2 linked regions of the Homo sapiens genome follow. The protein of the gene in region 2 interacts with the protein of the main gene of each other region in a pairwise test. Each region holds a gene or a part of one and is shown on either strand. Other genes may lie near its edges.

What was found. Proteins that work in one complex are often made in the same cells at the same time.
Region 1: the proteins of PIAS2 (region 2) and ACY3 interact in binary tests that used the Homo sapiens proteins (3 or more experiments, as listed by UniProt).

What each region holds. Positions count from the first base shown.
Region 1 is NC_000011.10:67,647,731-67,655,918, forward strand, and holds the start of ACY3 (N-acyl-aromatic-L-amino acid amidohydrolase (carboxylate-forming)), read right to left. Parts: upstream 3,001-8,188; 5' UTR 2,853-3,000; intron 1-2,852. UniProt on the Homo sapiens protein: Plays an important role in deacetylating mercapturic acids in kidney proximal tubules. Also acts on N-acetyl-aromatic amino acids.
Region 2 is NC_000018.10:46,907,010-46,915,022, forward strand, and holds part of PIAS2 (E3 SUMO-protein ligase PIAS2), read right to left. Parts: intron 1-8,013. UniProt on the Homo sapiens protein: Functions as an E3-type small ubiquitin-like modifier (SUMO) ligase, stabilizing the interaction between UBE2I and the substrate, and as a SUMO-tethering factor.

The DNA.
Region 1 (8,188 bases), on a different chromosome or scaffold from region 2:
CTTGTGCTGCCACGGCCCAACGAGTCCAGGTCCTGCGGGCAAGTTCCTGCCCCTGCCCTTCGTCCTTCTGCTGGGCCCCAGAGGGGCCACCTTCCTTAACACTACTAAGAGGTACACCCGCAGTGGGGTGGTGACTTGGTTTTGGTCACCACCAGAGCAGGCTATTGAAAGTTACTATAGAGGTGTCACCTTGATGGCCACCAAGATGACAAGCTGCCCCTCCTTCACCACCTCGGCAACATGCCTCTGTCCTTGCAGCCCGGAGAGGGCTGTGGTCACTCCTGAGTCGCCCTTACCCAAAGGTGCCATGTGGAGCCCCAGTTTTACAGCTCTTTGTTGCTTTAAGCAAAATTTTAAAATGTTTGATCCGGGATTTCAGTCATTTTCAAGGACAGTGTAACTCAGATGACTCGGTTTGCCCTGTTTTGGGAACAACCCTCAGGCTCATTTTATAGATGTGAAAACTGAGGCTCAGAAAATTGTCTGCAGGCACACAAGCCCTAGAGGCAGGCTGCAGGTGGCCCACAGAACCCTAGGGGCAGACTGTTCAGCGGCACACAGAGCCCTAGAGGCGGGCTGCAGGTGGCGCACAGAGCCCTAGAGGCGGGCTGTAGGTGGCACTCAGTGCGTCCAATGTGGCTCCATCCCCTCCTGCTGCCTCTCAAGAGCAAAGTGGGGAAGGATGAAGGTGAGGTCCCCTGCACTCAGCCCTGGGGCCTCTACCTCCCACCAGGCTCAGCTGTCTGCTGGGAGGAGCTGAGGCCAGTTCCGAAGTCACTGGGGAGTGAGGCAAGCTGCTCCGCCAGGGCCTGCTGGATGCCAGGTGCTGGGACCCTGAGCTGGAGCCTCCCCCAGGCATCGATCCTGGGCCTTCTTTACCACCACACTGGGTCTCCCCGGGCCAGTCCAGCCCTGCTCCAGATGCCAGGCCCACCAGCCTGGGGGGCTCTGGGTGGCCAGGACCCTCTAAGTTACACCCTCTCGGAAGCTGCCCCAGATCACACTCAGCTCTGTGTGGCCTGGGCTCTCCTGCCCTCCACACCCAAGGCTTCGTGAGCTCAGAGCATGGCGATTGTGGGGACAGGGGATTTGTCATCCTGGCTCCCATCAGGGCAGCTGGGATCTTGACAGGGTGTCAAGAGGGGTGGATGGAGTGTGAGGCTGAGCCCCCAGTGGGCCGGGGCTCCCTATGAGCCCCCTCCAGGGGCCACTCCTCCTGGCACCTGGAGCCTCAGCAAAGGGAGGGCAGAGACTGCCATTAGGGGGCCATGCCATGCCATCAACTCCTGTATCCGGCCCAGCCCTGGGGGCAGCTGTCACCGGCTCCATTTTGCAGGTGTGGACTGAAGCTCTAGGGGTTGGGTGACTTGACTGAGTCCTTGGCAGGTGGTGGGAGAGGGAGTCAGCAGAGGAGCCTGTCGGCCTGGGTCTGTTCCTTCCTTGCTTGGGGTAGGGGTCTCAGGGACCCCCATGCTGCTTTATGAGTCCCAGGCCATGGTCTTTGTTGGAAGGCCCCCCCAACCCCCACAGAGGCTGGGATCCTGCTGACTCGGTGTGGTACCTCTCAGGAAGGAAGGGCCTCCGTGGCAGACCTAGCTATTTTGGGGGCTGCTGGGGGCCAGGGTGCTTCCTGCCACAAGGTGCTGGGCCCCCAAGTTTAGGGAGAACAGCAGTAGGGGTGCTGGAAAGTTTCACTTCCCTTGGCTGGGGTCCAGCTTCTGCATTTCAGTGAGTGTTTATGGAACAGAACGGGGTCCAGGAACCCTCAGAAACAGCAGCCCCCAGTCCTGGCAGTGTGTGCGCGTGTGTGCATGTGTGTGCATGCATGTGTGCATCTGTACATGTGTGCGTGTGCATGAGAGCATGTGTGTGCGTGTGTGCACTCACATGTGTACGTGACAGCATGCGTGTGTGCGTGCGTGTGTACATGTGTGTGCATGTGCATGAGTATTGTGTGCATGTGTGCATGTATGTGTACATGTGTGCGTGTGTGCATGAGAGCATGTGTGCGTGTGTGCGCATGTGTGACAGCATGCATGTGTGCGTGTGTACGTGTGTGCATGTGCATGAGAGTATTGTGTGCATGTGTGCATGCATGTGTGTGTACATGTGTGCGTGTGTGCATGAGAGTGTGTGTGCATGTGTGTGCATGTGTGCATGTGCTTGAGAGCGTGTGTGCGTGCATGTGCGTGAGCATGTGTGCGTGTGTGTGTGTTGTGTGCACACGTGTGACCTGGCTCTGGCCCCACCTCCCTGACAGGCTGTGTGACCTGGAGAGATTCAGTGCCCTCTCTGGGCCTTGGCTCCACCCTGTGAAAGTCCTGGCCAAGGGCAGCTGTGGGGAGTGAGGAACAAAGGGCGGGCACAAGCTTGAAAATGGGCACATGGAGACCCCAGCATGAGTGAGGGCAGAGGATGGTGATGTCATGGGCATCATCACGGGGGCCAATTTCCTCACTGCAGTTGGGGAAACTGAGACCCAGAGAGGGGTCAGAGCTGTGGTTCCCCCCTGTGTCAGCATCCAATTAGATCATGCCTCCCAGCATCACCTCATTGCAAGATGCAATCAGATCACGCCTCATTACCCTATGCTTATAAAACCTGCCCCAGCCCTCAGCTCGGGGAGACACTGCTTTGGGAGCTGTCTAGGTGTTCTCCTTACTTGTTGCAAGAAATAAAATCCCCTATTAAATCCTCTTTAGTTAACACCCGCCAAGCAACTGAGCCCACCCGTTGTGTGGGTAACAAAACTCTGGCGACCCAGATGGGGCCGACTGGGATTCTGATCCTAACTTCTTGAGGCTCACTAAGGTAAAGCAGTGGGCCGCGGCACCTTCCCCGGGCGAACTCACCCACGTGGCCCCAGAGGGTTGAGGGTGACTCCCGGGGATCTTCTGCTTGCTGCGTGGCCCGTGGGGCTGTCACTCCGCCCTACCCCCGAAACAGCGGAAGCAGCTGCCTGGAGCTTTTGTTCTGTGCTGCTCCTTCAGGGAAGAAAGTGGACTTTGCCCCGTGGGTTGACTGAAAGGGTAAATTCTTTGGACCTAGCAGTGGGATCTCTAGACTTCAGCGCAGGGCACCTCTGCTTTCGGTTTCTGTCTGGCTCTACGTGCCGTGGGGGATTGAGAGGCATCTCTGGCCAGGCCAAGGGCAACCCGGATCCCGGATCTGGGTAGACAACAGTGGGACTAGTTTTGGGAATTCGTTTTTTTTTTTTTGAGACAGAGTCTGGCTCTGTCACCCAAGCTGGGGTGCAGTGGCGCGATCTCGGCTCACTGCAAGCTCCACCTCCCGGGTTCACGCCATTCTCCTGCCTCAGCTTCCTGAGTAGCTGGGACCACAGGCGCCCGCCACCACGCCCGGCTAATTTTTTGCATTTTTAGTAGAGACGGGGTTTCACCGTGTTAGCCAGGATGGTCTCGATCTCTTGACCTCGTGATCCGCCCGCCTCGGCCTCCCAAAGTGCTGAGATTACAGGCGTGAGCCACCGCGCCCAGCATGAGAATTTGTTCTTTTTTAGAGAAACAGAATTTTTCACAGGAGGCTGAGCTGCTCCATCTCCCAGAGCCCCTACTTGCCATACCCCGGGTTACCAGAAACAGGAGCTCTGCCATTTGATGAAAAAAATACTTTTTTCAGATAAATGTTTTTGTCATATCATCACACAAAGCGGGTAAAGTTGTATATATATACATACAACTTTTTACAAATATGTGATCATATGTACAAAGGCTAGAAGGAAATATACAGAAAAATATGTATTAAAATACTGGTTTTTTTTCATTGTTTTATAAGATACTCTACAAAACATTACAATGAGGTAGGACTATTTTAGTGCTAGAGAATCTCATTAAATGAATTTGTTCAAGAGCTTCTTTGTCAGCTGGGTGCAGTGGCTCACACCTGTAACCCCAACACTTTGGGAGGCCAAGGGGGGCAGATTGCTTGAGCCTAGGTGTTCAAGACCAGCCTGGGCAACATAGGGAGACCCTGTCTCTACCAAAAAAAAAAAAAAAATTAGGGTGGGCGCGGTGGCTCACACCTATAATCCCAGCACTTTGGGAGGCTGAGGCGAGTGGATCACCTGATGTCAGGAGTGTAAGACCAGCCTGGGCAACATGGCAAAACCCCGTCTGTACTAAAAATACAAAATTTATCCAGGCATGGTGGTGGGTGCCTGTAATCCCAGCTACTTGGGAGGCTGAGGCATGAGGCAGAGGTTGCAGTGAGCCGAGATCATGCCATTGCACTACAGCCTGGGCGACAAGAGCGAAACTCTGTCTCAAAAAAAAAAAAAAAAAAAAATTAGCCAGGTGGTGGCACACACAGCTGTGGCCCCAGCTACTCAGGAGGCTGAGGCGGGAGAATCACTTGAGCACGGGGAGTTGGAGGTAATCGTACCGTGAGTACAGTGAGCCGTTATCGTATGGCTGCATTCCAGGCTAGACAACACAGTGAGACCTTGTCTCAAAAGAAAATAAATAAATAAATAAATAAATAAATAAATAAATAAATAAATAAAGAGCTTCTTTGTCAATATCCTTTTGTGGGTATACATCATAGTCCCACAGTACTTCTTCAACCCAGGGAGATAAATGTGTATTAGTCTGAAGACCCAGGAGAGAATCTTCAAGACTTGGCACTGTCACTGATGATGATCTGCTTCCTTACATTATGACAAATGTATTCCCAGCTCCGGCTTGTTCTGCCTCATTAAGAGAATATTTGAAGACATTATTCATGATAGCAGCATCAGCATTTTGCAGAAGAAACCCTGGGGACAGATGTCTGCATGAAGCACCTTTATTCTGTGAATAAACTGGTATTTTTTAATGACCATTTCCTGCAACTGGCAAAAGTCTCCGTTCAGTTCTACTCCACAGGGTTGCACTGCTAAGCTATAAGATCACCCCATAAAGACTGTGCTGAGCCTGGAGCTGACGTCAGCCACAGCCTTTCCTGATTGATCAGGGAGTGCATGAAGATAAATGAACTTCAATTCCATGAGGGAGAAGGAACGAGCAATCGGTCTAAAGGTTCTGTTTGGTGTGAACCACCCAGTAGTTTCTGCTCATTTTCCCTTTGTCACATAATGAATCAATGAAGTCTTTATCACAAAGGAATGCGTCAGCGTGAATGGTGGGTTCTGGCTGCTGCTGTAGTTTTTGAAGGGTTAGATGTTCTGAGGAAAGCATGGTTTCTAGAGGCAAGCAATTCTGAAGGTCTTCTGCAGTGGGTTTTTTTTTTTTTTAATTTTGAGACAAGGTCCGGCTCTGTCACCCAGGCTGGAGTGCAGTGGCTCGACTGTGGCTCACTGCAACCTCCAACTTCCAGGTTCAAGCAGTCCTCCCATCTCAGCCTCCCAAGTAGCTGAAACTACAGGCACGCACCCAGCTAATTTTTTTTTTGAGATGGGGTCTTGCTATGTTGTCCAGTCTGGTCTCAAACTCCTGAGCTCAAGTGATCCACCCCCTTCAGCCTCCTAAAGTGCTGAGATTACAGGCATAAGCCACCACACCCAACCTTTCTGCTGTGTTTTTAAACACAATGTCTTTATTTCCTTCAGTGAATTCATCAAAATCTCGGGCAGTTTGCATCTGCTGGAGCAGTGCCGGGCGGTCGGCAGAGCCACAGTATAGAGCAGTTACAAGATTTCCTGCCTTGCCGAGTGAAATCTATGCCTTCCAATTTTTTTTAATTAATTAATTTTTAAAAAATTAGATTGGTACAAAAGTAATTGCAGTTTTTGCCATTACTTTCAATGGCAAAAACAGCGGTTACTTTTGAACCAACCTAATATTATAGAGACAGGGTTTCACCATCTTACCTAGGTTGGTCTCGAACTCCTAAGCTCAAGTGATCCACCCACCTCGGCCTCCCAAAGCGTGGTGATTATAGGCATGAGCCACCATGCCCGCCCCTCCCCACCAATATATTTTTAAAACTAGTTGAGTGTGGGCCAAGAGTTGTGGGATCTGTGTCACCACCAATCCCGCCTCTAAGCTGCTGGGTGGGTAATATGGGAAAACAGTAATTGTAGCAGGACTCCAGTGGCAGAAGCCATGCGGATAAACTACAAAAAGCAGAAGGGACACTGGGGATGCTGACATCTCCATTGGTTGAGATTACCCTTAAGGTATTGAGCAACTGTGGCCAGGTCCAGGAAGGGCAAAAAAAAAACAAAAAACAAAAAACAAAAAGGCAACACAAGACAAGAAGCCATCGAGTCTCTTGGCTACAACCAGCCAGTACACAAGAAACAGTTCACTGCGGCCAGGCGTGGTGGCTCATGTCCGTAATCCCAGCACTTTGGGAGGCTGAGGCGGGAGGATCACCTGAGGTCAGGAGTTCAAGACCAGCGTGGCCAACATGGCTAACCCTGTCTCTACTAAAAATATAAAAAATTAGCCAGGCATGGTGGTGGGCACTTGTAATCCCAACTACTCGGGAGGCTGAAGCAGGAGAATCGCTTCAACCCAGGAAGCGAAGGTTGTAAGCTGATATCGCGCCATTGCACTCTAGCCTGTGCGACAAGAGCAAAACTCTTTCTTGAAAAAAACAAAAAACAAAAAAACAAAACAGTTCACTGGAGATGATCAGCCATAAGTAAGATCCCTAGGGACCCCACTGCCCGGCCAAAGGGCCTCCCGCCCTTGAGAACACAACAGTGTGCATATTGTAAACAAGAGGGCCATTGGGTACTAGAGTGTCCTAACTGTCCCCAGTGGGTAGGGAAAGAAACTTCCCCGTCAATCAGCCCACCAGATGCTACAGTTTGCTAATAGTGACCAGAAGTGATGGGACTTGGGGACTCCTCTATGATCTGGGAACCCCTAGATCGGGTAACAATTGCTGTGGGAGAGACTCACGGGTTTTCCGACACTAGAGCCAAATTTTTGCCTGTCTCCTTTCTACCGTGTTCTTCCTAAAATTTAGGAAAGGGCTTCTGCTGTATGGGAGAGATAAATTTTAGCTAAAATTGTTAGTTGGACGGAGACAGAGTTGGAACTGTCTTTTAAGTAGTGAATTTTACCTGACCCATGGCTAAACCTTTAAAAGTTAAAGCTATAGGATCGTTATTTGTATCTGGTAGTATGTACACGTCCGGTTATATTTGGCTATGGTACCGAATTGGCTTATAAAGAAATGAGTACTCATAAACTAAGCAAATAAGACCAAGTGCTTTTCAAGTTCACATGACAGTAATCTTTTGGTGAATGGAACTAGTCTAAAATTGTTGGTTTGATGGGAATGGTGTGCCTTCTGAAATGTAACTTAAAGGTTCTTACTTTTTTTTTTTTTTTTTTGAGACGGAGTCTCGCTCTGTCGCCCAGGCTGGAGTGCAGTGGCGTGATCTCGGCTCACTGCAAGCTCTGCCTCCCGGGTTCACGCCATTCTCCTTCCTCAGCCTCCCGAGTAGCTGGGACTACAGGCGCCTGCCACCACGCCCGGCTAATTTTTTGTATTTTTTTTTTTTTTTTAGTAGAGATGGGGTTTCACTGTGTTAGCCAGGATGGTCTTGATCTCCTGACCTCGTGATCTGCCCACCTCGGCCTCCTAAAGTGCTGGGATTACAGGCGTGAGCCACAGCATCCGGCCTTAAAGGTTCTTACTTTTATGATAGTTGCCTGACATCCAGCTATATAAAGGTAATTAACAGATAAATAATTTGAAATGATGACTAGCTTTGTCTAATATATCAGTTCTCATAAGTAATCCTGGTAAACTGCTAAAAATAAATAAAGTATGTAAAGGTAAATGGGATAAGTATCTATCGGCTTTTTAATGTAATTTGAAATCCTCTATTAGGTAATGGATACTCATTAACTATGTGAGTTATTTCCAAATAAGACAAAAACTGGAACAAATTGCTGACCATAAATATGTTTGCCCTGGGTCTCTTAAATTTAATATAAAGACTAAATATGTTTGGGCCTATAAATACGTATAAAAATTATGCTATAGGAAAACATGTTTTTCTAACAATTACAAAATGGCTCTTCCCCATAAAATACCAATATGTGATAGGAAGTTCAAGATTTTGTGCTTCCTATGTTTTCAACAAAATTTAAGGGAACTGGATGGGCACTGTGGCTCATGCCTGTAATTCCAGCACTTTGGGAAGCTGAAGCAGGAGGATCGTTTGAGATCAGGAGGTTCAGACCAGCCTGGGCAACATAGTGAAACT
Region 2 (8,013 bases):
GACCTGAGACACCAAGACTCTGAAAAGAAGGAGAGCCTGCAAAGCTGAGTCTCTTGATGCCTTCCCCGGAGATATCTGCCAATGGAAAAGGGCAATGGAGAGGTTAAAAGTCCAGCAGAACTCTGAATAGACTCAGGGGAAACAAGAGAAGGTATGTGCAAAACATAACCAGCAAGAGATGGTTTCCAAGATGTATAATGAACTCCTACGAATCAGTATGGAAAAGACAGATGTCCCAATATAAAAATGAGTAAAAGACTTGGCAAGCCACTTTACAAAAGAAACCCAAATGGCCAATAAGCACATTCAAAGGAGCTTGACATCATTACTTATTAGGGAGATGCAAATTAAAACCACTACACATTCACCAGAGTGTCTAAAATTAAAAGGGTAGACAAGGATATGGAGCAACTGGAACTCTACTATATCACTAGCAAAAGGGAATGAACCAACTACAACTACAGACAACAATAAGGATGAATCTGGCAAACGAAACAGAAAAAAAGGCAGAAACAACAGAATACATATACAGAAACAGAATACAGTTGACCTTTGAATAACAATAACATATAGTTGAATATTGAATAACAATAACATATCCAATAACAAAAACCTGTGTTAGTCAAAGGTCAACTGTATCTTGTCAACTGGTTTGAACTGTGCAGGTCCACTTATACGCATATTTTTTTTTCAACCAAATGCAGATCAAAAATATGGTATTTGCAGGACGTGAAACCCACATATACAGAGGGCCAACTTTTCCTATACATGGGTTCTGCAGGGCCAACTTCAGGACTTGAGTACACATGATTTTCCTGTTGGGAGGGTGGATCCTAGAACCAATCCCCCAGGTACACCAAGGGGCAACTGTATATATACTACACAGGTTCCATTTATATAAAGTTCAAAAACAGGCAATACTAATCTGTTAAAGTTAGGATAGTAGGTCGCTTTTGGAAGAATGAGGTGAGGTTAGCCACTGGGGAGGGGAATATTTAGAGTGCTGGTAATGTTCTCTTTCTTGACCTGCACGATTATTATTTTGAGAAAATTCATCCAGCTATAATTTCATTATCTGTGTACTTCCTATGTGTATGCTATATATCAAAAGAAGTTTGGTTTTTTATTATAAAAAATATTATCTTACACAGAGATGGGGTCTCACCATGTTGCCCAGGCTGGTCTTGAACTCCTGGCTCAAGTGATGCTCCCACCATGGCCTCCCAAAGTGATGGGATTACAGCCTTGAGCCACCTCACCAGGCAAGAAGTTTGTTTATGCTAGCAGCAGCATCATCTTGTTTTAGTTACTGTAACTTTTTAACAATTTCTGTAAAAACAGACTAACGGCCCAGAGTCCAGAACCAAAGCACAGATGAGTGATGGCATCCAAACCAGTGAAGAAAAAAATTTGCATGAAAGGTGATGGAACAATTTATTATTCTTTGAGGAAAAACCATGCATCTTGGTCACCACTTCACACTGTATACAAAATCAACTCCAGGTGGATTAAAACCTTAAATGAGAAAAGGTAAAAAAAAAACAAAAACAAAAAACAAAAAAACTACGTCTTATACTTTTACAATAATGGAAAATATCTTCGAGAACTCTGTTGAAAAATTTCTTCAACAAGATTCAAAAGCACTATCCATAAAGAAAAGCCTGATAAATGCAATCACATAAAAATTAAGAACTTCTACTCATCAAAAAACGCATAAGGCTGGATGCAGTTGCTCATGCCTATAATCCCAGCACTTTGGGAGACCAAGGTGGGCAGATCACCTGAGGTCAGGAGTTCGAGACCAGCTTGACCAACATGGTGAAACCCCGTCTCTATTAAAAATACAAATATTAGCCAGGCATGGTGGCGGGTACCTGTAATCCCAGCTACTCAGAAGTCTGAGACAGGAGAATCTCTTGAACCTTGGGGGTGGAGGGTGCAGTAAACTGAGATCACGCCACTGCACTCCAGCCAGGGCTACAGAGTGAGACTCCATCTCAAAAAATAAAAATAAAAATGATTTAAAAGTGAGCCCAATTGAAAGGAGAAATTTGCACCACATGCATCCAACTGTGAAACTATTAAAAATCAGTATGAAATAATTTTTTTAAAAAACTAGTACAAACATGGGCAAAAGACATGAATAGGAATGTGAGAAAAGGGAAGAATGGCTAATCAGTATAGTAAAAGATGCTCAAACTCATTAGCAAAGCAAATGAAAACTAAAAGGTGGTATTTTATACTCGTGGGTAAAAACTTTTTTTTTTGAAACAGGGTCTCACTCTGTTGCCCAAGCTGGCGTGCAATGGCATGATCACAGCTCACTTCCTAGCTTCAGGTGATCCTCCCATCTCAGCCTGCCAAGTAGCTGGGACTACAGGTGTGGGCCACTATGCCCAGCTAATTTTGTTTTGTTTTGGTAGAGATGGGGTTTCACCATTTTACCCAGGCTGGTCTCAAACTCCTGGTCTCAAGCCATCCACCCACCATGGCCTCCCAAAGTGCTAGGATTACAGGCGTGAGCTACCATGCCCAACCGATAAAACCTTTTGAAGTGTGACAAAAGTAGATGTTAGCAAGAAAGCTGAGTAATGAAAACTTCTGCATTGCTGGAGAGAACGAAGACTGACACCACCTTTTTTGGAAGATAATCTGACATTATCCAATATTGGTGAATATGCACACATTCTTCTTAAATACCAGCAATTCTATTCCTAGAATCTCTACAGTGAAACATACAAATATTCACACTAAGTGAGATCAACAAAGATTACAATATCAGTGCAGGTCAGGGTTTTTCTGCAAGACAAGTTTGGTGAAACTTTACAGTTTTTTTCTCTTCATTTTCAAACATTTGGATTTAAGAAATATGGATGGCCAGACACAGTAGCTCACACCTGTGATCCCAGCACTTTGGGAGGCCAAGGCGGGTGGATCACCTGAAGTCAGGAGTTCAAGACCAGCCTGGCCAACATGGTGAAAACTAATAATACAAAAAAATTAGCCGGGCATGGTGCACACCTGTAATCCCGGCTACTCGGGAGGCTGAGGCAGTAAAATTGCTTGAACCTGGGAGGAGGAGGTTGCGGTGAGTCAAGATCGCGCCACTGCACTCCAGCCTGGGCAAGAAGAGCAAAACTCCGTCTCAAAAAATAAATAAATAAATAAATAAATTTTACATATGTATATATGTTAAAAGTATAAAGACAGACCAGGAATGATGAATCCAAAATTCAGTACAATGGCTACTGTCATTGGTGAAGGTGGACATGGTTGCAGTGGATGTGATCAGGAAAGTGCATCCTGCTAAAGTTACACTAATGAATTAGTAAACTGGTTGGTAATTATATGTATGTTTGTTTACATACGCCTTACCTGTTATAATCTTTTGTACTTATCAAATAACTTAAATATTTAAAATACAAAAATTAGTATGGAATACCTAAATACAAACCCACTGTTAGAGTCACCAATTCAGGGAAGTGTCTCAAGAACTCTAGAGAAATTAGCATCAGAGAAATTCAAGGTATTTCCCCATAAATCAAGGACAGGTTGCTATTTAAAAAGAAAGAAAAATGAAAGATGATAGAAGAACTCTTATAAATTAAAGATAACTACTGAAATAAATTTTATAGAAAAGTTCAAAGACAAAATCAAAGAAACCTTTCAGAATGTAAACAAATCCCGTAGATCGTAGACTACAATTGTAGATTACAATCTTCTACAGGAGAATAACCATCAGATCTGCAATGGACCTCTGATTAGCACACCAAGTATTTTAGATTCCCACAGCAAAGTTTTCAAAATTCTGAGGAATTTATAATTCCACATGTAAACTTTCAATCAGGAACAAAGACAAGCCATTTTCAACATTCGAGAACTCAGAAAGTTTATCACCAGCATATCCTTCCAGAAACAACTATTGAAGGCTGTATTCCTGTAAAATAAAAAAGGTATCTAAAAGAGAAAAACATGGGATCCAAATAACAATAGATCTAACCCAGGAGAACAATGTGAAGTAATCCCAGGATGACAGCTGGGTAACAGGTCTACTAAGCTTCCCAAATTAGAAAAGGCAGGCCAAGACTCCGGAAAGTCTACCAAGACAAGCTGAATGGCTACAACATGAGAACCCATTATAATATTAAATTTTAAAAATAACTTCAATGAGCTTTCCTCATTCAACCAGGACTTTGTTATATTTCTTTTTTTTTTTTTTTTCCTGAGACGAAGCCTTGCTTTGTCACCCAGCCTGGAGTGCAATGACATGATCTTGGCTCACTGCAACCTCCACCTCCCGGGTTCAAGCAATTCTCCTGCCTCAGCCTCCCGAGTAGCTGGGATTACAGGTGCCCACCACCACGTCGGGCTAATTTTTGCATTTTTAGTAGAGACGGGGTTTCACCATGTTAGCCAGGCTGGTCTCTAACTCCTGACCTGAGGCGATCCGCCTGCCTGGGCCTCTCAAAGTGCTGGGCTTACAGACGTGAGCCACTGTGCCCGGCTGACTTTGTTATATTTCCTTTTTAAGGATCACAGGTTTAACAGAAGTGAAGTTTCTCTATGGCTCCACAGTACTTGGTTCTATAGTAACTAATACTCATGTCAACATACATATTTAAAAGAGTGGCTATTAGTACTCAATTTCTAGATTTTCCTGCAGAAGCACAGAAAACTTTAGAAGAGTTATAAAACATTATATAAATGCAATAAATCTTGCCAATGTAACAGTACTAACCAAAAACAAAGGCTGGGGCCGGGCTCAGCGGCTCATGCCTGTAATCCCACCACTTTGGGAGGCCAAGGGAGGGGGAGTGGATCACCGGAGGTCAGGAGTTCAAGACCAGCCTGACCAACATGGTGAAACCCTGTCTCTATTACAAATACAAAAATTAGCCAGGCATGGTTGCAGGTGCCTGTAATCCCAGCTAATCGCGAGGCTGAGGCAGGAGAATCGCTTGAACCCAGGAGGCGGAGGTTGCAGTGAGCCAAGATGGCGCCATTGCTCTCCAGCCTGGGCAACAAGAGCAAAATCCTGTCTCAAAAAAAAAAGGAAAAAAGAAAACAAAGGCTAGGAAGGGAGGAGGGAAAAACAAAGGCAAGGTTTGGCTTTTAAATCCCAAAAGGAAAGGGATCGGTGTTATATCTTTTTCTGAAAGACCAGGAAGTGAGGAAATATAGTTGTCTCTCAGTATCCGTAGGGGGCTGGTACCAGGGTCCCCTGCAGATACCAAAATCCAAGAATGCTCAAGTCTCTTACATGAAATGGCATAGTATTTGCATATAAGCTATACACATCCTCCTACGTACTTTACATCATTTCTAGTTTACAATACCTAATATATGGCAAATGCTATGAAATGGTTGTTATACTATACTGTTTAGGAAATACTGACAAGGAAAAAAGTCTGTACATGTTCAGTACAGATGTAACCAACCTTTTTTCCTGAATATTTTTGATCCAAGGTTGGTTGAAACCAAAGATAAGTCATTCACAGACATGAAGGGCCAAATATACTGTCTAAAAGTGATAGGTCAATAAACAGAAATTTATAATAAAAAGTTAAAAATAACAGCAAAATTAGGAACCAAAATGTAACTGATAGAAATCAAAGTCTAGGACAGGTGGAAAATGACCTAAATTTCTTATCTAGCAAAAAGTTAAGAAATATTTTTTTTGAGTTGAAAAAATATAGAGAGAAAGGCATGGTATATTTTTAGACTTTTGGAACAACAATAAAACCCTAAAAACAAACAAACAAAAATGGTTAAAAGCATAATGGGAGTGGGATTTAATGGAAAAGGGAAGACTTTCACTATTTTGAATTTTTTCAGTACTGTCTGCACAAATATTGCTTTCATTTAAAAAATATGAGAAATGGAAATGAGAGAATAAAAAATGTGACATCAGGTGATCCACCCGCCCCAGGCTCCCAAAATGCTGAGATTACAGCCTTGAGCCACTGCGCCCAGCCTATTTCACTTTAAGTTAAATATATTTTGTTTCGAACGTGCTTTCATAGACATGAGCTCAGGTGAAGCCTTGGAAATTTTAGTTGCATCCCATAATAGCTTTGAATCATATGGAAGATTCTGTTATATCTATCATAGCTATTAGTCTGTATCCCTGCCCAATAAATGGGGAGAGGAGCGTGATGAGGACCTCTAACCTCAAATCCCCCATTAACTTCCCATTCTCCTGCTGCATCCTAACAGCACTTGAAGTTATCAGGATGGTGACTCCTGGTAGGTGTAAGGAAACCAAACACTTAAGCCTTCTAGACAGAAGACCTTCTGTTACAGAATTACTTAGGCTTCTTAGCATGAAAGACCCAAATCTGATCTTCGAATTATGACACAACAAATTTACCCAGTTTGGTAAATGTTCTGGTTTACCCAGTATCTATTGATAAAGTTATCATCGCTGGCTCTCTCAGGCCAAATGCACAACCAGATTCTCACAGGCACATTCTCTCTCATTCTGAGACACACACAGAATAAATTCTCAATGCATGAAAAGAAGGGGATGAAGAATACAGAAGGGAGATCCTTAAAAAAAAAAAAAAAGTCACTACAATAGATCCCCCTCCTCCCCATTGAGTGATGAGAAGTAGGGAAAGTAGATTAACCAGGTTAAAGTGTAGCAGGGACCTTTTTGTGAATGACTGCCACCAGCAGACCACAATATTGGAAATATGCAACTGGAAGGGTAAAGAAAAAGCTGCTCTGGTTAAAGAAGAGGTAAGTGATTCCAGAAACTCAACTCCTGCTCTCCTCCATCCCTGTGCTTAGCTCTTCTACAGACTAGTTTGAGACAGGGTCTCCCTCTGTCGCTCAGGCTGGAGTGCAGTGTCAAGATCAGAGCTAGCTGTAACCCAGAAATCCTGGCTTCAAGCGATCCTCTTGCCTCTCAAAGCGCTGGAATTACAGGTGTGAGCTACCAAGCCCTGCCCTCCAGACCATTTTTGGAGGAGGAAGCAAGGCAGCAGTGACAGAAGTTCAGGCCATCAAATCTTATGATCTTGTCCCACATTAATTCACAACTAGTTAATTCAAAATCTGTTCATTCACAAACTAATCACTCCTTCAGCTCCTAACAACACAGATGCCATAAATAAGCAACTGGTAAATTGAGTAATTTCTTCTCTGGCACCTTGAAAGCTTCTAATATATAACACATTATTGTAACCATCTTTGAGCACACAGGCCACATTTTCCCTTTTCAGAGAACTTCCCCACTTCCTTTCCTTCAATCCATCAGGATAATCTGCTGATCAGGTTTGTGTGCTTTGACTCTAAGCCCCCGGCTATGGATGATTAGAACAGAAGTAGAGACCTAAACTCAGCCAATCAGATTCTCTCTCCCAGAAGAACTGGAAGAGAGGTGGGCTGGTATTCTGGTCACCCGGACTGAAAGGCAACAAGGTATAGAGCTGCCATATTCTGCTATGACCAGCCAAGATCTCTGGTACTGGCTCACGCAGCAGTCTCCAAAACTGAAATAGTCAGGCGACCCCCTTAACAGTTGCCTAATCGAATAACCAACCCTCCCCCCCCCAACTCCACCCCCGACACACAAGTCTGAAAAGCAAAGGCACCAGGGTCACCAAACCACACTGAGGATTACCTTTCCCAAAATTCCCTATCTCCAGTATAGATGCAGCACTAGCCAGGATATGAACTGCTCTGGTTATACTTGTCCAAAATGAGTAGCCTTGAAGGGTAATGGAAATCCTCTCTGTGGCATATCAGCAGCCAAATATGTGGCATCCAGATCGGCTGACCAATTTCTCTACTGCCAAGAAGTTAGCCAACAAACTAATGCCCAAAATTTTTCCTGGTCCTATAATTTACTTGAGCATCACTCTGACCACCACAATATATTCTGATCCAAGGACCATCATTTTGAGAATCCAAGATTATTTCTTCCCCTTTTCTTTCTTTCTATTCCGTTTTTTAGTCTGTTTTTCTTCCTTTATTATAATGTCACACAAGAAGGATGTTACCAATCAT